Linked DNA regions of Homo sapiens: region 1 is linked to region 2. Evidence: fine-mapped expression QTL. Tissue or cell type: left ventricle. Region 2 holds a variant in brackets; the other region holds the start of a gene. All regions are shown on one strand. Distances are from middle to middle.

Region 1 (5,214 bases), 21 kb after region 2:
TGCATGAAGGCAAATGCAGTGTAGGCAACCTATCCCTGGAGAGGCAACATGAAAAGAAGCAGGAGAAAGTTTCATCCTTCTCATCTATCCTTATCAGTCAATATACAAATGCTGGCCCGGCGCGGCTCACGCCTATAATCCCAGCACTTTGGGAGGCCAAGAAGGGTGGATCACTTGAGGTCAGGAGTTCGAGACCAGCCTGGCCAACATGGTGAAACCCCATCTCTACCAAAAAATATATTTAAAAAAATTAGCCAGGTGTGGTGGCTTGCACCTGTAATCCCAGCTACTCTGGGGGCTGAGGCAGGAGAATCACTTGAACCTGGGAGCCAGGGGTTGCAGTGAGCCGAGATCACGCCATTGCACTCCAGCCTGAGTGACAGAGCGAGACTCCATCTCAAAGAAAAAAAAAGAAATATACAAATGCTGAATCAATACCCTCAATGACTTCCCATAACCTTCTCATAAAATCCAAGAAAATAATGGTTTGGAATTCAGAAGACCTGATCTCATCCTATCATTGATGTACTATGTGCCCTTATATACATCACTTTCCCTTTCTAAACCTCAGTGTCCCCATCTGTTAAATGAGACCAGATGCCAAAGAAACACCCAACTCTACTTTATCTGCCCATAAAGGTTTTAAACTTGACATTTCAAGTGAAGGCTAGAAAGAGTTTCTAGCCCCAGGCCATACTCCTACTTCACATCACAGGCAGTCCTGCTCCCCATTCTTACTTTCTCCATTCTCCCAACATGTCATCTCCTACACACCCTCAATAGGAGGTATAAAGTTGCTCCATGCTTCTAATATTAGATGATACTCATCACACAGCATCTGATACCATCCCCATCTGCACGGCTTTGTCTTTTAAATACACAGCCTGCTCTGGGTTTACATCCTTCTCCTCCTACTTACTAACTTGGAACTTGGACTCAATTTCCTTATCTGTAAAGTGGGGATGGTAATGGCTTTCAAAGCTTTGTTGTGAGGGTTAAACAGAGTGGTGATGCCTACAAAATGCCTGGTATATGTGAACATTTAATTAAATAAATACAATATTACTGGCTGTTATTATTGTTACCACTTGAATGTAAGCTCCTTTAAGGCAGAATCTCTATCCTGTTCAACTCAGTTGCTGAAGGGTAATTAGTGCAGTGTACTGTAAAAAACAGGGACTTTGAGATCAAAGGACCTGGGCCAAACCTATGAATGGGACCCTAGCAAGTCATTTGTCCTCGTTGAACTGGACTGAGAAGCTGTTTGAGGTTAAGAATTGTATCTTAATATTTCTGTGGACCTAGTACCTAGCGCAAAGCTTGCCACATAGATTTCCATTATATATGCAAAGGAAATATGAATATGAAAAACAGCAACAGTGCTGTTAATGGATGTACCTCTATTAAGTCCTTTATACTTATTTTGTTGAAGAAAGCAAGCTGGAACATCTCTAACTTTAAAGTCTTAGGAGGAAAGCAAATGACACATCACCAAAAAAGAAAGGGAAAAAAGAAAAGCATCCTGCTGTAGAAGAGAAAAGGAAAGGACTGGGTTCTCTAGCAGAGCAGGCAGCTTCATGCCCCAGATTTATGTCCCAGGTAGAACATTGGCCAAGGTTTTGGCATAGGCATGGACACGTGGGAGGATGAGGGACTTCGGTTCAGCTGCCTCCAATGCAACCTGCTCTGAGCGAAGTGGCCAGGTTCAGGGAAACTATTCTCAGCGAAGAGCGTCCAGGCAGCTGAGCCCAGAGTTCCCATTTTTGACTCTTCCTCTCCAACCTCCCCCACCCAGCAGTCAGGTCCCGGGAGGTAATTAGTGTGGGGGAGAGGCAAAGCTTCTGAGGGGGCAGGGAGATGGGAAAGTACGGGTGGAGGCGGTCTTCTTGTCATAGGTCTCACCAAGAGAGGAGAGATAGAAAGAGAGAGAGATTTATTTTTGCACGTGAGGCATACCTAATGATATTCCCACAGACAGACAGACAGGAAGACCAAGAGAGGGACAGACAGGACACACTTGCGCGTTTGAAATCGTTCATACCCCCAAATCCAGGACGCAGCCTGTTGTCATAACCATCGAGCAAACTGTCCAGGATGCGGGTGAAATTTTCTGTGCACAATTTCTCCTCCTTTTGGTTCTGTCCTGGGGATTCGTTTAAACTGCAAGCGAAAAAAAAAAAACCGGGGGCGGAGGAGATTATTTTAAGAATCCATCAGAGAACAGGTGCAAACAGGTTTGTTTTCTAGGGAAAGAGTCGCTTGCCCCAAGCTAAAGGAGAGGAGGTTGGGGGTTGGGATGCAGAAGACAGAAATGGTCAGGAAAAGCGCGCCCCGCCGCAAGACCCCCAGTGCCCACACGCCTCTTGGATCCTGCGCCCTTGGTGCTCTCCGCATCTATGCGGTCACAGAAAAGCCTGGCTTCGGCCCCTGCTCTTACAGCTGAGATAAGAAGACCTAGTCCACCCAGGGAGGAGCGAGTGGCCAAAGGGGTCCCGGAGCTAGCCATTTCTCCACTTTCCGTTGCCCACCTCCTCGCACCCCAGAGAACTCACCAAACCGCCAGGCACAGGAAGCGCAGGAGGGCGAAACTGACCCCGGCGGACAGAGCGATCGCGGGTACCTTCTTGGCAGAAACCATCTTTGCAACATGCCATACTTCAAGCCTGTTCACGTTTCCAGGCTCTTCAGATGCCCTGAGCAGGGTGCGAGGAGAGGGCAGAGAGGCTCCCGCGGCGTGCGCACACTCGCGCTCACACTCGCCCGCGCTCAGCCAGCCCGAGCCGCGGTGGGCGTGTGTGTGCACGGGGCCAGGGGAGGCGGAACCTGCCTTCCTCGCCCCCTCCTTTCTCGCTCAGCGCTCAATGTGTATGTAGAGCTATGTATACCGCTCCACACCCTTTCGTGCCCGCGCGCTGAAGGTTCTGGGGTTCGTATCCGCGCGCTTGCGCTGCAAGACTCGGCAAGTTTGTTCCGACTGTAACTCCGGGGATGAGGAACGGGGTCTCTCGCCCCTCCTCCGGCTTCGCAGCCCCCGACCCCAAGTGGGCTCCCCGCCCACAGCAGTGTTCGTCCTCCTACCTCCTGGCCCCCTCCCTTCCGCTGGGATTTGGATCTAACCAATGAAGCTCCTCTGTCATCAGGTTGTGCGAGGACCTGTTTGTACCCAGAGTCAAGGTTGGAGGTGGAGAAAGGGCGGGTGACGGGGACTGCTGGGCGTCGGGTGGTAGCGGTGGTGAGGAGAGGGGATCAAGTCCGGGCTCAAACCACCTTTGAGACCCTCCCATTCAGGTGTTATGGGGGGCGGTAGGGAGAGCAATGAAAGCAGAAAGATTCTTCCTGGTAACAGGGGTTGCAGCTCACCCGGCGGACTCTCGCCAAACTATTGGGAAGTGGACTCGAGCCGCACTCTAGTCCCAGTATTTGCTAAGCTATTGCTTTAAAGACACCCCATTTCTTTACCCGCCTCCACCAGACACGCGCACACCCTCCGCTTTGCTGCTCCATCCTTTTCTGGAGAGGAGGGGAGAGGTGGAGACAAGCGACCTCTGGTCAAAATCACTTTCACTTCTTGCGACACTCTTCTTTTTCAGAATGGAGTTGACTTACTTCCAGAGGTTGACTGCTTTAGGTAGGGGGAAAGGACGGCTGGAGAGAGAGTGGGGGGGGAAAGAGAAAATGTGTGTGTGTGTGTGTGTGTGAGAGAGAGAGAGAGAGAGACAGAGAGAGACAGAGAGAGAGAGAGAGAGAGAGGCAGAAGGTGGGGTATGGAGAGAAAGGATACATAAATTAAAATGGAGGGGGACAAATATTAGTTCCCTTGTGACATGAAAGGGAACACTAAGCTCCATATCTTTACTGTTTTACTGAGCAAAGATAAGCATTCCCAATAGATCTTTGGAAACATTAATTATTGGCTCCAAGGGGGAAAAGCGTCTTTCAAATTAGTAATGATGCATGTGGAAATTTTCATATGATGGATCAATGAGCTAAGTAATTCCCATACCTTGGAACCAAACACCAATTAGGTTCTAGTCGGAACTCTGATGATTTGTTCAAATTGAGATGACTAGTGGACGGGTATGAAGAGGGAACGCATTGTATTAGACAGGGGTTTTGGTTTTTTTGTGTGTTTTAAACGTCTGGATTCAAGTTTTCTTTCTAAGGGAAAGCCCAAAGTGCTCATCGTGGGCAGTAGCTAGAGCTCCGTGCTCTGTATTCTGTACTGCTTTCTTCATGGAATTTGTTAACTTCATCCTAATCCCATCTCTATCATTCTTTTCTCATAGACTGTGGTCTCTCTGAGGGCCTGGGCTAGGTAATTTTTGCTCATCTGTGTTTATTTTATCTGCTGTTACAGTGCATGGCACATAGAATGTCAATAAATATTTATTGAATGAACAATTAAACAAAGCAATGAATTGCTTGTTCTCAGATCCATCTTATAAATGTGGATGACTATCAAGCTCTCTCGTTTGGGAAAAATAGCGGAAGAACTAGTGTATCCTCCAAATATGCCATGAAAGCATTAGTCACCACAGATTCTCCACATATTATATTATTTCTCTAATCTTAATACTTTCCTACCTTTTTAAAAAGAGAATTTAGCTCTGTTGCCCAGGCTGGAGAGCAGTGGTACCATCATAGTGACTGCAGCCTCTACCTTTTGGGCTCAAGCAATCCTTCTACCTCAGCCTTCTAAGTAGTTGGAAGTACAGGTATGTGTCACCATGCTCTGTTAATATATTTTTATATTTTTGTAGAGATGTGGGGGCTCTGCGATGTCACCAGGCTACCCTCAAACTCCTGGTCTCAAGTGATCCTCCTGCCTCTGTCTCCCAAAGTGCTGGTATGACAGATGTAAGCCACCGCCTTACATTTGTAAGCCTTTTCCTATACTTTCTAAAACCTAAATTTGTATTTTCTAAACCACTTTCCCTTGCAATTTTCATTTTAAAAATACACATATCAAAAAATTAAGAAACCAAAATAATGGCTTTGGGGAAACAGTTACATATCGTATCTTTAAAATTCAAACTTAAAATCTGTGAAACTATTATATTCAAATTAAAAGAACATTCTTTCAGAGTAGCTACTTCCAGTTATATTTTTGTTAATTGGGTTATAGTATTTAAGTTCAGCTGAAGATAATACTAAAGGCATTTATATCTCTTCTCATTTTATTTCACAGTCTTTTATTTATGCCACTTTTGTATT
Region 2 (5,000 bases):
CTTGAGTGTTAAATGAGATAATGAACATCAAGAAGTTAGCAGAGCATCCAATAGTACAACACTAGAAAGTTATGCTTTCTTTAAAACACTTAAAAGTCAAGGAAACTAAGTCTGAACAAAATCTATCTTCCTTAGATAAGAGAAGTATTGGAGAAAGTAATTAATACGAACTAAGTGGTCCAGATACCCTATATTGAGAACGATACATAACTTTTTAAATCCTCACTAGTCTATGAGGGTGAGATGTATTATCATAATTTTATGAATGGAGAAAATAAGTGGCAGATTTGGGTTTAAACCTAGACTTGCTGACACCTACAGCTTAGATTTGTTTTTTTCTCTCTTCTGCTTTCAAACTTATATTTAAGAGCTAAAATTTATTCAACACTTTGAGTTGTGCAGTTATTCTTTAATTGAACCCTTATAACTCTTTAAGGTACCATTATACCTCCTCACTGCTTTCCTAAGATCACACCCTCCCTCCACCATTGCCCCCCCATATGAGTTTCTCCAGTATACTTCCAGTACTTTTTCTTTCTATTTTTTTAATGCATCCTCATACTCCAACACCTTCTTAGAGAAACCTAAGATTAAAGGGAGGATAGTTGTCTTTAGAGTATTTCAGATCCATTGAGGACACTAAGACACCCTAATCAATAGTTCTTGAAAAGGATGGGGAGGTAGGATGAAAAGTTCCCGTTCTATTTAGTTCCTTCGCACCAGCATCTCTTCAGCTATTGTGTGATAAAGGATATTATACCATGGCTGTGATCCTACTAGGTAGAAAATCAAAGAGGAATTGGCACTCTTGTGAGGAATACACCACCATTCCAGAGCAATTCTGATCATTTTCCTTCTTATTCTACTACTGAATGCTTTTGTTACTCACAATGAACAGAAAAAGAATAGAGAAAGACATTAACTAAAATAAATATAATTATAACAAATTATACTATTTAAAAGCATGACTGACATGTAGAACACATTAACTTATAAAAATTGTAAACTCATATGCTCTGAACTTTATATTGTTCAGAATACTATACAGTATATATGAAGCCACTATAAAAACAAAAAGAAAAACCAATGTTTAGAAAAAAAAGAAGTAAGTAAATATATGAGCTTATAAACTAAGCATATAATACCTTCCAATTCAATGCATTTAAACCGTTTGCATTTTGTTCCTCTTCATTAAAAGCTAAATTATTCTAAGGCTTTCATATTCATTCAGCCATGACTTTTATTTGTTTTATTTTAAGCTGCCAGTGCATTTCTTTTTAACATGGAGATATAATTTTAATTCAATTACACAGCATTATACTAGGAGCCCAAGAATATCACTGAAAGTGAGATTATGTCCAGATTCACATTTGGTCTATGCCTGTCTGGTTCTCAACAAGGGAAATCTGATGCCTGGCCCCAGAGGAAAGGAAGGATGCCCAAATCTCCCCAAGCTTTATTACTTTGTACTGGCTAGATAAAAATGAAAGCCATGTGATTCCTTATTCAGGATAGCCTGATGTATTAGGGTTTAAGATTTTCTTAGAAATATCCCATGAATCATGAATAAAATGTAATGTGAACAAAAACGCCCAAGAAATGAATTGCAATTACCAAATACAGTCCTAGCGGGAACTGATTCTTTATTTATCCAAAATGAAACTTGAGAAAGAATCACTGTCATAATGCACGGAATATAGGTCTGAATCATAAAATAACCCATCTTCCGTCTGAGGTGGAAGTAAACCGTCATAACAATATATTCACCTGCCAAGAAAACAGGAGGAAAATGTGTTATCGGTTCTGCAGGCAATTAGTCAATGGCTTCATAAACATATTTCAGACTAACAAACAGGATTCTAAGGAAAGAAATTCTCTTTTGTGCATAGCTACACAAACATCAATAAGTATGTAGTTTCCTAACGAGGGAGAAAATGATATTGAACGTTATTATACAGAAAAACTCTTTGTTCCGTGTAATGATTAAGCAATTTAACAAATTGGGCTAAAACTTTTAAAAATGTTCTGTAGTGCTTTCTATTTTGATGGTCTAATATTGCTAAGGCAATTAGCTTTCATTTTCAGCGTTTTTTAGAAACAGCATTTAGACCTATCTTCTATGAAAAACCACTAGAAAAAAATAGAAATGCACACAGTTACACATACACAGACACTGACACATACACACACATTTATGAAAATATAAAGTTTAATTTTAGAAAGTAATAAATATACATATTTATATATAAATATATTTAAATTTCATTCATATATAGATTTCATACACAGTCACAAGCTTAGAGAGAGGCTACCATAGTTTTAGGAAAGAGGTGAATTTCTAAATGTTCTTTATATGAAGAAAAATATAGACGTGTATAACATACAGGCATATATAACACCCCTGAGTTCAAGCATGTTTTACTGGCATTTAGACAAAAACCTGAAAAACTAATAAGTACAATAAACCATAAGATTTCTGGTAGCTGTTGATAAGTGTTTTTACTGTTACCTCTGAAAAGAATATGTGAAGAAAGTTATCTAGGAAGCAGTGG[C/A]CTTATTCACAAACCATGAGGCCAGCATTCAGAAACCTCACATCCTACCAGATGTGTTCTAAATCCCATTTGCAGACTGGAAAATAAATGCCCTTCCAAAAATAAATTTTCCTGGACAGATGAGAGGCAAGGTGCCCTTTAGAAAGCTACTGTATTGTTTCATAATTGATGTGAAGAAGGTTTCCTCAAAATGATAATAGTCATGACAGGTGTCATAAAGATAAAAGTAATGGAAATTTAGGAGAGAGGAGCAGTGCCATTGATTTTATGACAAAGACAGTGTGTGACTTATACAAAGCAGTTTTAATAGAAGAGACAGTGGGCTAAATTCCTTTTTAAAAACAAAGACTTATGTATTAATTTTATTTATCCATAATAAATTTCTATTTTATCTTATTTATGTTTAATTTTTAACCAATTTTTTGAGGTATGATTGACATACAAAAAGCTGTACATATTTAATATATACAGCTTGATGAGTTTGGAGATAAGTATACACTCATTAATCTATCACCACAATCTATGCCACAAATATATACATCACCCCCAAAAGTTCCCTCCTTCTTATTTATTATCTTCTGTGATAAGAACATTTGAGACCTATTCTCTCAGCAAATTTTTAAGTAGACAATACAGTACTGTTCACTATATGCACTCTGCTATGCGGTGGATATCTAGGATTTATTCACCTTACAGAACAGAAATACTATGCCCTTTGACTAATACCTCGCTGTTTCCTCCTCCCGGAGGCCCCTGACTACCACCATTCCTCTCACTGCCTTTCAGTTTGACTATTTTAGATTCATCATCCCTTCACAACACTGCTTTATCCATTTTTTCTTAAAACAAAAACAAAAAAAAACTTTGTTACCTCACATCTTTGCTCCAGATCTTAAAACTACTCATTTTCTACTAATGCAGTCTTAGCATTTTATCTCGCAGTCAACACCTTTTAAGAACACAAACTCAGAAGTCATAACACTTAGATGTGAATTTGGGTTTTGCCAGTTATTAGCTGTATGACTTAGGCAAATACATTGTACTTAAACCTTTCTCGTGTATAAAATAAATGTTATAGTAGTATCCACTTCATGGGATGGTTATGAGAAAAAAATACATGGAAATAATTTAGAAGGGTGCCCATCAGATGGTGATTGCTGAATAAAGTTTAACTATTGCTATGGTCTAAATGTTTGTGGTCCTCAAAGTTCAGATGTTGAAACATAATAGCCAATGTAATAATAGGAGGTTGGCTTTGGGGTGTTTAAACCATGATGGTGGAGCCTTTATGAATAGAATTAGTGCCTTTATAAAAGAGGCCCCAGTGTGAGCACCCACTCCCTACACCTTTGGGGTCCCCATGTGAGGACTTATTCATAGAAGGTACTATTCTGTGAACGAAGAAATGGGTCCTCATTGAACACTGAATCTGACTGCACCTCATCTTAGACTTGTCAGCCTCCTGAACTGTGAGAAGTAAATTTCTGTTGTTTATGAGCCGCCCTATTTGTGTTGTTTTGTTACAATGGCCCAAACAAACTAAGTTAACTATCATAAAAAATATTTTTTCTGGTGATATGTGTATGTAAGGAACAGTCTTAGAACAAGCAATAATCAGCTAATTTTTCCACTAAATATGATTAAAAACTAAATTCTATAATTCTTCCTATTCACATTCCAAAAGAAAAGAGAGACCAAGAATCATAAATAATAAACATCCCCCCTACTCATGTGATAACCTTAATGTATACCCATAATATACTTTGTAATTAAGTTTTAGATTTTTGTTTACTTTCAGAAAATGAGAGAAAGTGGCACCACAAAATTGGGCAAGATAAAGGAAAATTTTTGGAAAGCCCCACAAAAATCATCAAAAACCGAAAGCAGAAACAAAGCAAAGACAAAAAACAAGATCAGACTTCCTACCACATAATTTTGTGAAAATAATTTTAACATATTTGATTACTGGCTTTCATTTCTGAATAAGAAAACCAACTCACTTTTAGCATCTTACTAAATCAGAATTTATTTTAAACTAAAGTAAGATTATAAATATAAAGAAATTATGAGCTATAACTCATGCATCAACTCTATTTCTGGAAAATGTTTGTTGTTCTCCTGAAAAAATTAACTATTTCAATGAAAAAGTCAGGAGAAAACTTTATTGCTAACACCAAGTAGCATGTCGGCTTTAATCATTACACATCTCACCCGTAATTGATTTGATGGTTTCACTTGATACGGTTTGCCCAATCAAATCATATTGAACTAAGCTGGAAGACTCCTTCGGAACTTCAACTGATTTCTCAGGACCTTTTGTCCAGGTATAGATCATCTCACTCTTTGGATAGGCATCTAAAAGAGAGCACAGAATGTGGTTAGAGTCAATGCTCCTTTTTCATCCACATCAGTGGTCAACACTTAAAAACAGTACTTGTTCAAGAAAGA

The links. PIP is the estimated chance that this variant, and not a neighbour inherited with it, causes the effect. A credible set is the group of variants that fine-mapping cannot tell apart.
Region 1: GABRA4 starts here. The variant in region 2 is the best candidate, but not a certain one, in a credible set for the expression of GABRA4 in left ventricle (GTEx, PIP 0.57).

The regions. Positions count from the first base shown.
Region 1 is chr4:46,990,787-46,996,000 of GRCh38, forward strand. It overlaps GABRA4 (gamma-aminobutyric acid type A receptor subunit alpha4), which reads right to left and starts at 2,795. Exons shown (of 9, transcript NM_000809.4): 1 at 2,553-2,795; 2 at 2,042-2,160. The coding sequence starts at 2,638. It also overlaps a transcript of GABRB1 not described here. RefSeq lists a silencer at 2,726-3,020 and an enhancer at 3,182-3,251.
Region 2 is chr4:46,969,469-46,974,468 of GRCh38, forward strand. GABRA4 (gamma-aminobutyric acid type A receptor subunit alpha4) reads right to left here. Exons shown (of 9, transcript NM_000809.4): 6 at 4,764-4,907; 7 at 1,615-1,767. Among named protein-coding and RNA genes, the nearest start is that of GABRA4, 22 kb to the right of the region's middle. The variant C/A (reference allele first, on the strand shown) is at 2,553.